Regions from separate parts of the Homo sapiens genome. Here region 1 is linked to region 2. A link means that fine-mapping ties the variant in region 2 to the plasma level of a protein whose gene starts in the linked region. Region 2 holds a variant in brackets. A gene starts in the other region. All regions are shown on one strand. Distances are from middle to middle.

The links. A credible set is the group of variants that fine-mapping cannot tell apart. PIP is the chance, under the fine-mapping model, that this variant and not a neighbour inherited with it causes the effect. The UK Biobank Pharma Proteomics Project read protein levels with antibody pairs (Olink). The fine-mapping took linkage between variants from a reference panel, not from the people measured, so its PIPs are less certain.
Region 1: VEGFB starts here. The variant in region 2 is the best candidate, but not a certain one, in a credible set for the plasma level of the VEGFB protein (UK Biobank, PIP 0.81).

The regions. Positions count from the first base shown.
Region 1 is chr11:64,233,502-64,236,968 of GRCh38, forward strand. VEGFB (vascular endothelial growth factor B) reads left to right here and starts at 1,083. Exons shown (of 7, transcript NM_003377.5): 1 at 1,083-1,392; 2 at 1,957-1,999; 3 at 2,312-2,508; 4 at 2,753-2,826. The coding sequence starts at 1,333. It overlaps DNAJC4 (DnaJ heat shock protein family (Hsp40) member C4), which reads left to right. Exons shown (of 6, transcript NM_005528.4): 5 at 393-479; 6 at 572-780. The coding sequence ends at 683. RefSeq lists silencers at 631-1,120, 1,341-1,710.
Region 2 is chr11:17,326,807-17,335,324 of GRCh38, forward strand. It overlaps NUCB2 (nucleobindin 2), which reads left to right. Exons shown (of 14, transcript NM_005013.4): 12 at 3,321-3,491; 13 at 4,096-4,177; 14 at 4,606-5,405. The coding sequence ends at 4,613. Among named protein-coding and RNA genes, the nearest start is that of NCR3LG1, 21 kb to the right of the region's middle. The variant C/G (reference allele first, on the strand shown) is at 3,330.

The sequences.
Region 1 (3,467 bases), 47 Mb after region 2:
AAGTACTGGGATTACAGGTGAGAGCTACCGCGCCTGGCCACAAAGCCGATTTTCTATAGCAGATACCTAAAGGCCAGTGCCCACTGCTAGCAGCCTGCCTAGTTCAGTGATGGAGTTAGACGCATACCCTTTCTAGTCTTCTGGGAGGAGCACCCCCATGTCCACAGCTGCTGTCACACCTCAAAGTGACCAGGGACTTCGGATGCCATTGGACCCTAGACAAGCCAGGGCCACTCTGAGCCCTCCCTATCTATCACAGGAAGGGTTAGACTGAGGTTCCTAACCCTGTGTAAGGGTAAAAAGCTGTGAGGCCCCTAGAGTGGGGTGGAAGGGGGCAGGACTTCAGGGACAGCAGGAATTGGATTCCCAGGGTTAATTGTGACCCATTGCAGGAAGGTGAAGCAGATGCACCTTAACTTCATGGATGAAAAGGATCGGATCATCACAGCCTTCTACAACGAAGCCCGGGCACGGGCCAGGTCTGTCCCTGCTCTATTCTGCTCCCTGCTCCCTGTCCAGGAACCACACTTCGGGATCCCTATCCCAACCACCCAGGTGCCCTCTCCTCCAGGGCCAACAGAGGCATCCTTCAGCAGGAGCGACAACGGCTAGGGCAGCGGCAGCCGCCACCATCCGAGCCAACCCAAGGCCCCGAGATCGTGCCCCGGGGCGCCGGCCCCTGAGGGGCTCACCTGGATGGGGCCTGCAGTGCGTTCCCGCTTTGCTTCCTTCCCTGGACGGCCCGCTCCCCGAAACGCGCGCAATAAAGTGATTCGCAGAGCTCGTGTCCGGCTCCCTCCTTAAGGCCCGACGCCCCCGGCCCCGGCCTCGCCAAGGGGCAGCGCCCCGCCCTCCGGGTAGTGGCGGCGGCGACTGGGGAGCCCAGCCTCCTGGGCGGTGCGTCCCCTTTCCCCTGCCGCGGCGGGAGGCGGGAGGGGGTGTGTGGAGGAGGCGGGCCCCGCCGACGGCCTCGCCCCCCCACCCCGCCGCCCCGCCCCCGCCCCACGGGCCGGTGGGGAGCGCGTGTCTGGGTCACATGAGCCGCCTGCCCGCCAGCCCGGGCCCAGCCCCCCGCCGCCCCCGCCGTCCCCGCCGCCGCTGCCCGCCGCCACCGGCCGCCCGCCCGCCCGGCTCCTCCGGCCGCCTCCGCTGCGCTGCGCTGCGCTGCCTGCACCCAGGGCTCGGGAGGGGGCCGCGGAGGAGTCGCCCCCCGCGCCCGGCCCCCGCCCGCCGCGCCCGGGCCCGCGCCATGGGGCTCTGGCTGTCGCCGCCCCCCGCGCCGCCGGGCTAGGGCGATGCGGGCGCCCCCGGCGGGCGGCCCCGGCGGGCACCATGAGCCCTCTGCTCCGCCGCCTGCTGCTCGCCGCACTCCTGCAGCTGGCCCCCGCCCAGGTACGTGCGGCCCGACAGCGCGCCCGCCCGCCCGCCGTGCCCTCTCTCAAGGTTGGCGGAAGTGAGGAGGCGACCCGCGGCCTCGGCCGAGGGGATCTGCGGGGTCCGGCCTTGGACGCGGGCGTCTCGGGGGCCCGGCGCGTGCATCCCCTGGGAGGTGCCCCTCCCCGCTGGCCCGCCAGCCCCAGTCTGGGGCCACTCCTCCGCCCCACCCCGTCCCCTGGGCACCGCCGGGGGCGGGGCTCCCTCGGTGCCTGCAGGACCTGCTTCGGTGGGCACTGTGCGCGCTCCTGATCTGCATGCAGCCCCCAAACATGCTCGGCTCCGCGGCCTGGAGATTTGGCGCGGCCACCAGAGCACCTGTTGCGTTTTGGGCCAGGGCAGGTCCCGGGTGGCCAGGAGAGGACAGGTAAAGCTAGAGCAGTGGCCGCAGGAACAGAGCAATCTGGAAAGATGTCAGAGAGGTGGTGAAGCCTACTGATGCAAGGGCAAAGCCCCAGGGACGGTGACAGGGCCACACCCTCCTAAAGTGTACCTTGGGTACAGGTCTTTTCTCTCCCACAGGCCCCTGTCTCCCAGCCTGATGCCCCTGGCCACCAGAGGAAAGGTAATACTTACAAAAACTCGGCACTAGCCAGCACTAAGAGGGTTTGTCATGGGCCCTGATTCCAGGTGTCCATCATCTTGTGTAACTCCCCTAGAAGATTCAAACTATTATTCTACCCATTTCACAGAGGAGGAAATTGAGGCAGTGGGGTTACTGGGATCTGGATAAACAGGGCAGGGGAAGACAGGTTGTGAGGGCAGAGTGGGGAGGGCTAGTGGAGGGTGGCTGTGACTTGGGGACTGGGGAGGACAGATGCTGGGAGCAGCTGCAGGAAAACCAGTGAGGACTTAACCCCTACCGGTCTGCTCCCAGTGGTGTCATGGATAGATGTGTATACTCGCGCTACCTGCCAGCCCCGGGAGGTGGTGGTGCCCTTGACTGTGGAGCTCATGGGCACCGTGGCCAAACAGCTGGTGCCCAGCTGCGTGACTGTGCAGCGCTGTGGTGGCTGCTGCCCTGACGATGGCCTGGAGTGTGTGCCCACTGGGCAGCACCAAGTCCGGATGCAGGTACTGGGCAGGTGGGGCAACGGGCAGGGGATGCAGGTACTGGGCAGGTGGGGCAGCGGGCAGGGTGGATGCTGGCTGGCTCTGGGGCTGGGGCAGCCTGGAGACTGATGCACAGGAGACAGGGTTGGGGGGAGGGCTGGTGGCCAGCCTCCCGGCTGTTGGGTGAGCTTTTCTCCCTTCAGTCTTAGAGCATCCCCTTTCTCTCTCTCCCTCACTGTCCCCCCTGTTCTTCTCCTGAGCACAGATCCTCATGATCCGGTACCCGAGCAGTCAGCTGGGGGAGATGTCCCTGGAAGAACACAGCCAGTGTGAATGCAGGTGCCAGCCAGGCCCAACTTCTGAGCTCGCAGAGGCCAGGCTTGGGGGGTGCTGGGTATGGTGGTCCACAGAACTGGGGACCAGGTTCCTAAGAGTAGAACCAAGGGGCCGGGCGTGGTAGCTCACGCCTGTAATCCCAGCACTTTGGGAGGCCGAGGCGGGCGGATCATGAGGTCAGGAGATCGAGACCATCCTGGCTAACATGGTAAAAACCTGTCTCTACTAAAAAAATACAAAAAATTAGCCGGGCGTGGTGGCGGGCACCTGTAGTCCCAGCTACTCCGGAGGCTGAGGCAGGAGAATGGCATGAACCTGGGAGGCGTAGCTTGCAGTGAGCCAAGATCGTGCCACTGCATTCCAGCCTGGGCGACAGAGCAAGACTCTGCCACAAAAAAAAAAAAAAAAAAAAAAAAAAAAGAGTAGAGCCAAGGGTAGGCCTTGGATCTGGGGCAACAAAGTAGGATGCTTGGGCCGGGGGTAGTGGCTCACACCTATAATCCCAGCACTTTGGGAGGCCCAGGCAGGCAGATCACCTGAGGTAAGGCGTTTGAGACCAGCCTGGCCAACATGGTGAAACCCCATCTCTACTAAAAAAAAATACAAAAATTAGCCGCGCATGGTGGCAGGTGCCTGTAATCCCA
Region 2 (8,518 bases):
TACCTTCAGATGATTTCTTTGTTCTCATTAACATCCTTTTATTTCAGATTGAAGAACTACCTTTCACATTTCTTATAGGACAAGTCTGGTGTTGATGCAATCCCTCAGTTTTTGTTTATCTGAGAAGGTCTTTATTTCTCCTTCATGCTTAAAGGATATTTTCAGTGAATATACTATTCCAGGGTAAAAAATTTTTTTTCCTGTCAGTACTGCAAATATTTCATATCAGTCTCTCTTGGCCTATAAGATTTCCACTGAAAAATCTGCCACCTGAGACAGAGTCTTGCTCTGTTACCCAGACTGGAGTGCAGTGGCGTGATCTTGGCTCACTGCAACTTCTGCTTCTCAGGTTCAAGTGATTCTTGTGGTTTAGGCTCCCGAGCAGCTGGGATTACAGGTGTGTGCCATCACATCTGGCTGATTTTTATATTTTTAGGTGAGATGAGGTTTTTCCACGTTGGCCAGGCTGGTCTTGAAATCCTGGTCTCAAGTGATCTGCCCACCTCTGCCTCCCAAAGTGCTGAGATTACAGGTGTGAGCCACTACGCCTCGCCAGGATCCTTTCTTTGTACTTGACCTTTGGTAGTTTGATTATTAAATGCCATGAGGTAGTCTGACGTGAGTTAAATCTGCTTGGTGTTCTATAACCTTTTTGCACTTGAATGTTGAAATATTTTTGATATTATTCCTTTGAATAAACTTTCTACCCTTATCTCTTTCTCTGCCTCCTCTTTAAGGCCAATAAAACTCCTATATTTGCCGTTTTGAGGCTGTTTTCTAGATCTTGTAAGCATGCTTTCATTGTTTTTCATTCTCTCTCCTTTGTGTCCTCTGTATTTTCAAATAGCCTGTCTTCAAGCTCAGTAATTCTTTCTTATACTTGATCAGTTCTGCTATTAAGAGACTCCGATGCATTCTTCAGCGTGTCCGTTCCATTTTTTTAACTCTAGAATTTCTGCTTGATTCTTTCTAATTATTTTGATCTCTTTGTTAAATTTATCTGATGGAATTCTGAATTCCTTCTCTGTGTTACCTTGAATTTCTTTGAGTTTCCTCAACACAGCTATTTTGAATTCTGTATCTGAAAGGTCATATATCTCTGGTTCTCCAGGATTGGAACCTGGTGCCTTATTTAATTCATTTGGTTAGGTCATGTTTTCTTGGGTGGTGGTGATGTGTGTAGATGTTTGTTGGTATCAGAGCATTGAAGAGTTAGATACTTACTGTAATCTTCACACTCTGGGTTTGTTTGTGCATGTCCTTCTTTGGAAAGCTTTCCAGGTATTCCACGGGACTTGGGCCCAAAGTCCAGTAATTCTGTGATTTTTGCAGACTCTTAAAAGTACCACCTTGGTGGTCTTGGATAAGATCCAGAAGAATTCTCTAGATTACCAGGCAGAGACTCTTGTTCTTTTCCCTTACTTTCTTCCAAACAAATGGTCTCTCTCTCTGTGCTGAGCCACCTGGAACTGGAGGTGTGGTGATGCAAGTACCTTTATGGCCATCACCACGGAACTGTGCTGGGTCAAGCCTGAAGCCAACATGGCACTGGGCCTTGCCCAAGGCCCTTTCCTTCATGGTGGCGAGTTCCCCCAGATCCTGGGTGTGTCCAGAGATGGTGTCTAGAAGCCAGGGAATGGAGTAAAAAACCCTAGCAATTTACCTGATGTTCAGTTTTACTGTGGCTAAGCTGACACTCAAATCACAATACAAAAGCCTTCCTGCTCTTCACTCCTCTTTCCACAGGCAGAGGACCCTCTCCCTGTGGCCATTACTACCACCATCTCTGGTCCACATGGGGTTCTGCCAGCCACTGCTGATATTTACTGAAAGCCCAAGGGCTTTTCTGTCACCTTGCGGTAAATGCTGCCAGGCCTTTACCCTTCAGGGAAGTGGGCTCCCCTCTGGCCCAAGGCGAGTCCAGAAATGCTGTCCAAGAGCCAAGGCCTGGACTCAGGGACTCCAAAAGACTGCTTGTTGGTCTACCCCATTGTGGCTGAGCTGGTACCTAGGGTGCAAGACAAAAATCGCCTTTACTTTCCCTCTGCTTTCCTCAAACAGGGGTCTCTCGCCATAGCCACTACAGCTGGGAATGTGCTGGGTCACCCCGAAGCCAGCATGTCTCAGTCCAAGACCCACAGCATACTCCATGGGTCTTGCCGCTGATTATTCAGGGCCCAGGGGCTCTTTACTTAGCAAGTGATGAAGCCTGCCAGGACTGCTCCCTTAAGGCAGCAGTTTCCTTTTGGGCCAGCAGGGTATGTCTAGAAATGTCACCTGGGAGCTAGGGCCTGGAATCAGGTCCTCACAACTCTGCCTGGTGTCCTATCCTACTATGGCTTAGCTGGTATCCAAGATGCAAAACAAAGCCCTCTTTACTTTTTCCTCTCCTTTCCTCAAGAAAGGAGTCACTTTCATAGCCACAAGCTGCACTGCCTGAGGTTGGGGGAGGGGTAGCACAAGCGTTCCCTTAGCCTCACCAGCTGGTATCTCCCCTGGTCACCTGCTACCCTAGTTCACTGGCTCTAAGCCCAGCCTAGCACTAGGAGTTGCCTAGGAATTACAGTCCTCCTTTCCTAGACTGCCTTTCAAGTTTACCTAGGACCCCAGAGCACTTCAGCCCGCATGGTGAGGCCTGCCAGGAAATTCAGTGCCCATTGCTGGGATGGGTGATTCTCCTCTGGCTAGGGCTGCTTCAAATGCTCCTATGCATGGGCAGTGGTGGAGCCCAGCACAGCTTTATTCTCTGCTGTGACAGGGCAGCACTGAGTTCAATGTAAAGTCCCCCAGTCGCTATGCTCCCTCCCCAGAGGGCACAGACTCTCTGTGCTGCAGGTCTGCCACGAGGGAATGGGAGAGAGGTGGCATAGGTGATTCAAGACTGTCTCTTTTGCCCTTCTCAGTGTCTTTGCAGGTGATATGAAGTTGAAACCAGGTACTGTGAGTGCTCACCTGATGTTTGCTTCTTGTGCTTTTCTGTGTGCAGACAGCTGTTAAAATTTCATGTTTCAGTGAGGGTTGGGGGGAATGACAAATTTTATTTCTCTTCCCACGTTCTCTTTGCCTCTTCTACCCAGTTCTCACTCTTTGCCTTTAGTTGTCAATCCCAGAAGAGAATCTCTTGAGTTTTTCTTCCTGTTTTTCCTTTTGTTCAAATGAGTACATAAATATATATTACTTATTTCCCCTTCCTTCTTACCTCCAAAGGCGTAATCCTATAGATACTCTTTTATACTTTGCTAACCATAGAATTTTAAAGCTAAATCAGACTTTATTGTTGTAGTTTTGAGATTATTCTTTCCTCATTTTTTTTCTTTTAGACATTAGAT[C/G]AGCAACAGTTCTTCACAGAGGAAGAACTAAAAGAATATGAAAATATTATTGCTTTACAAGAAAATGAACTTAAGAAGAAGGCAGATGAGCTTCAGAAACAAAAAGAAGAGCTACAACGTCAGCATGATCAACTGGAGGCTCAGAAGCTGGAATATCATCAGGTGGCATTTTGTCAAAAGATTATGGCATTAAAAAGATTTTAGGTGCTTTGTTAAAAGCCTGTGTTTTTGTAACATATTTCATTGTACTATATAGTACACTGCTATAGCTATACTATAGTATTTTAAATTTTAATACTTTAAAACTGTTTTGTGGAATATTAATCTAAATTTTATTTTATTTCATTTTATTTTATTTTGAGACAGCCTGTCTCCCAGGCTGGAGTATAGTGCTGTGATCATAGCTCACTGCAGCCTCAAACTCCTGGGCTCAAGTGATCCTCCCACCTCAGCCTCCCCAGTAGCTAGGACTACAGGTGCATGCCAGTGTTCCTGGCTAATGTTAATATTTTTTGTAGAGACCAGGTCTCATTGTGTTGCCGAGGCTGGTCTCGAACTCCTGGCCTTAAGTGATCTTCCCACCTGGGCCTCTGAAATTGTTGGGACTATAGGCGTGAGCCACTGCACCTAGTCAAATCTAAATCTTATAGTTTGAATATCTTTGTTTTAGAAAACAATTTTCATTTACTTTGTTGTGCTTTGTCAAAGGTCACACATATGATAGAAAATCAAGTTATACTTTTAACTTTCATTTTCCATTCACCAGGTCATACAGCAGATGGAACAAAAAAAATTACAACAAGGAATTCCTCCATCAGGGCCAGCTGGAGAATTGAAGTTTGAGCCACGTGTGTAATTTTGTTTGATTATTTATTTAGGAAAATAAATTATTTTATCAATTGAAATCCACATTTATTACAAATATAATTTCAAATCATTAAGATGTTATGTTATTTTTTGTGTATTTTTTGTGGTATTAGAGCAATTTAGATTATAGAAAAATGAAAATGCCTCCAAAAGTTTTATGTAGCAGCAAATTTTAAGTGCTGTATCATTTGTATAATTTGATAACCATATTTATGGTAAAATGATTTATTTCAACTTTATTTGTAATTCTTTCTAATTATATTAATCTTACCAGAGAATATGTTTTTTAAAATTGTGATCTATGATTAGCTAAGCATATTTTTTAAAACAAGTATATTTGTATATGAAGGAACATTTAGAATAAAGGAAGATACTTTTAAAATAAGAACTTTTTTCTTTTTTCCAACAGACATTTAAAGTCTGAAGTCCACCAGAACTTGGAAGAAAGCTGTTAACTCAACATCTATTTCATCTTTTTAGCTCCCTTCCTTTTTCTCTGCTCAATAAATATTTTAAAAGCATATTTGAAATAAAGGGAGATACTTTTTAAATGAAAACACTTTTTTTGGGACACAGATATTAAAGGATTGAAGTTTATCAGAACCAGGAAGAAAACAAACTCACTGTCTGCTCTCTGCTCTCACATTCACACGGCTCTTTTATTTATTTTTTTGTTCTCCTTTAATGATTTAATTAAGTGGCTTTATGCCATAATTTAGTGAAACTATTAGGAACTATTTAAGTGAGAAAACTCTGCCTCTTGCTTTTAAATTAGATTGCTCTCACTTACTCGTAAACATAGGTATTCTTTTATGGGTGCTTATCATTCCTTCTTTCAATAAATGTCTGTTTGATATTAACAATTCTGGAAAGGCCACAGTATTTCCCTGTGTTTCCTGGTAACGTTTTTCTAGTTTTGGCAACCTCAACTGCTAGAAATTCTTCACCTGAATCACTTTTGCTACCACTTCAGGTCATTTTTCATTCTTTTTTATTTTGCTCTATACTTTATCATTTAAGATTAGGTTATGTTACATATAACAGAAAAAACAAAGATAACAGTGGTTTAAACTAAATAGGAGTTTTTCTTCTTACATAAGTCTAGAAGTAGGTGGTGTCCAGGTTCCTATCTTTCTGCTCTGCTATCCTCAGTGCATGATTTTTATCCTCAGATTACCTCACTCTCACTGTTCAAGTTTGCTCCTGGAGGCAGTGGGGAAGGCAAGAAAACTGGACTTTCTCTGCTTGAGTTAGCTTCCCTGAGGCCATTTTCCAGAACCAGCAGCACCTGAACTTATGTTTCGACCAGAACTGGGTCACACTGATGGCCACACCTAGCTGCTAGGGAGGCTGAGAAGTCAATGTGGCAATGTGACCAGCTAAAAGTTGGATTCTTTTACTAAGGAAGAAGGGAAGAGGGAATGTTTGGTAGGCAACTTTGGATTTTAAACTCAGCCAGCCTTGTTGGCTACCTAAATTCTGTGTACCTTCTTCTTCCGAGAGAGAAAACACTCACCCCTCTCTCCCTGAAGAGAAACCACCAGAAATCCAGCCCATTATTGCATACTAGATGAAAGACCATGCTATCTGGAGACAGTCCCCTCCATCATGTTAGGGTGTGGCTCCTTGTGTTCTGGCCACCTACAAACTGAAAGACAAGTTTTCTGCCCTGAGAGCACCAGATGCATAATGCAAAGGTGCAGGAAAACTGACCTTTTAAATTTTTTAGAGACAGGGTCTTACTCTGTTGTCCAGTCTAGAGTACAGTGGTGTGATCATAGCTTACTGCAGCCTTGAACTTCTGGGCTCAAGTGATCCTTCCACCTCAGTCCCCCTAGTAGCTAGGACTACAGGCACATGCCACGAACGCCTGGCTAAACATTTTTTTTTGTAGAGATGGAGTATTGCTATGTTGCTCAGGCTGGTCTTAAACTCCTGGTCTCAAGCAATCTTCTCACCTCAGCCTCCCAAAGCACTGGGATCACTGGTGTGAGCCACCATGCCCAAGATCCCTAAAATTGACCTTTTAGAAAAAGGGAGAAATAGAAATATAGTGGCCACTGATCCATAGCAATTTGAAAGTACCACTTGGCAAAAATAATTAAATCTCTCTGCTATAGTTCATGAATATATTCCTTGGTTTGCCTATCAGGCAACCCCTGATTCACCTTTCTGAGAGGAATTCCTTTACCTAATGTCCTCAGGGGGCCTTGGTTTTACTTTCTTGGAGGTTTTTATTGTACATTAATTTTCAGACACAATCTGAATGGGCATTGGAAAGTATACCCTTCTTGGAGGCTGGGCAGCCTTAGCAGTTTACTTCCTATAATTGTGAGTCTGGGGGCAGGCTTGGGAATTAGAGTATAGATCCGTAACAGCTACAGTCTATTGCAGGCCAGGTTTGGGTTTTTGTTGTTGTTTTGTTCTGTTTCTTGGCCAAGTGGATTCCTAAAACTTTAGTAAGTTTCTGGTCTGTTGTCTTCAGTCATTTACATGGACAGTATTAACCAAGGTAAAATACATTGTTTTTAACAAAGAACCTCATCATTTACTTGCTGGCCTCTGTGTGCTCTCCATCCCCTTTGTTCTTACAGGAATGGTACCTCCTTGAGATCCTTTGAGACTGTAGGCTTGCATGGAATGGCAACAGTCTTAATCTGATCTCTTCCCCTAGGATGGCTCCTATTATTTGGCAGAAAATTCTTAAGGGAAGGTTCTTAAAAAAGGTTGAGAAAGTTTTAGTAGCTCCCTCAGAGCCTTTACTTATAAATGTTTCAGTTTGGAGTACAGTTTTCAATTCTTCAGGGCTCCAGATTTGGGACTTGGTCAATTTATATGGTAGACAAAGAGCAATTCTCTCAGCAAAGCTATTTTTCCCTTGCGTCACTGCAGACTTGTTAATCTTAGTCCAAGTCACATATCTCTTGTAGGGCTTTGCTGAAAAGAGGCAAGAAGCAGCCAACACATGCTAGCACTCTGAAGTTCTACCACCTTCGTCTCTGTGGCAGGAAGTCTCAACCTCACCTTGACTTCTGTTGGCAAGAAGTCTCACTGCCCAAAGCCCTACCTCCTCAACTAAGCCAACCCCAGATTTAGGGCCTTCGACTTGCTGTGCTTTACTTCTAGCTGCCAAATTCTGTATAGGTCAAGATTCTTGGCTGTAAGCAATGAAATCTTCTTTAGCTATTAAACAGAAGGGAATTGATGAATGAGTATATATAGGTCACAGAATCAATGGGAGGGTTGAAGAAACAGATCTAGGCTGAGCTTCTAGGAATTATGTCACAAGAGTAGGCTGCTGAAAGAGCTGCTGCTTTTAGAACAATCAAGAAGCTGCCTGCTGGATTAGGAAGCTGCCTGCTGAACAGTTGCCAGTTCCAGAGCCACACCACCTCTGCCATGCTTTATGCCAGCAAAAATAGATACATCTCTTCCTGCCTCTGTCCCCACGTTACTTGGCTCTGAGTAAAAGTCTCAAGTGAGTGAATCTGATGGACTGGACCAATCATATCTGAAACCCTAGCTGCAAAGGAGGTTGGGAAATATAATGTTCAACTTTCCTACCTCTGTGTGACAGGAATGCATGTTAAAAGCTACCCTAGGCCGGGCATGGTGGCTCACGCCTATAATCCCAGCACTTTGGGAAGCCAAGGTGAGTGGATCACCTGAGGTTAGGAGTTCCAGACCAGCCTGGCCAACATGGTGAAACCCCATCTCTACTAAAAATACAAAAATTAGCTGGGTGTGATGGTGCACACCTATAGTCCCAGCTACTCAAGAGGCTGGGGCAGGAGAATTGCTTGAGCCTGGGAGGTGGAGGTTGCAGTGAGCTGAAATCATGCCACTGCAATCCAGCCTGAGCCACAGAGCAAGGCTCTATCTCAAAAAAAAAAAAAAAAGGCTACCCTAGCACCTCACAAGTTTACATTGTTTCACTTAATAATTTTTAAACTGTTAGTCCTTATTTTATAAATTTTTAGATGATCATTGCATATTCCTCCAAACATACTTAAATAATGGATCCCAAAATTAAATATAGCAGTTTAGAAAAGTTATATACAGCTTTAAAAACCCTACAAAAACCACTCAATGTAGTAATAGTGCTTGCTATTTTTTTTAAGAAATGGAATAGAATCTCTATTGCTTAAATTATAAGCAATAGAATATCTCTATTGCTTAAATTATAAGCAATATGGAAAAATGGTTTGGAATATCCTTTTGTTGATGACTACTATCTGTGACATGAAACTGATAAGACATTCTTTTGGGTAAACGTTTTTAGATGGTAAACTGTGGTTAAATCGAATTAATTGGAAGACATA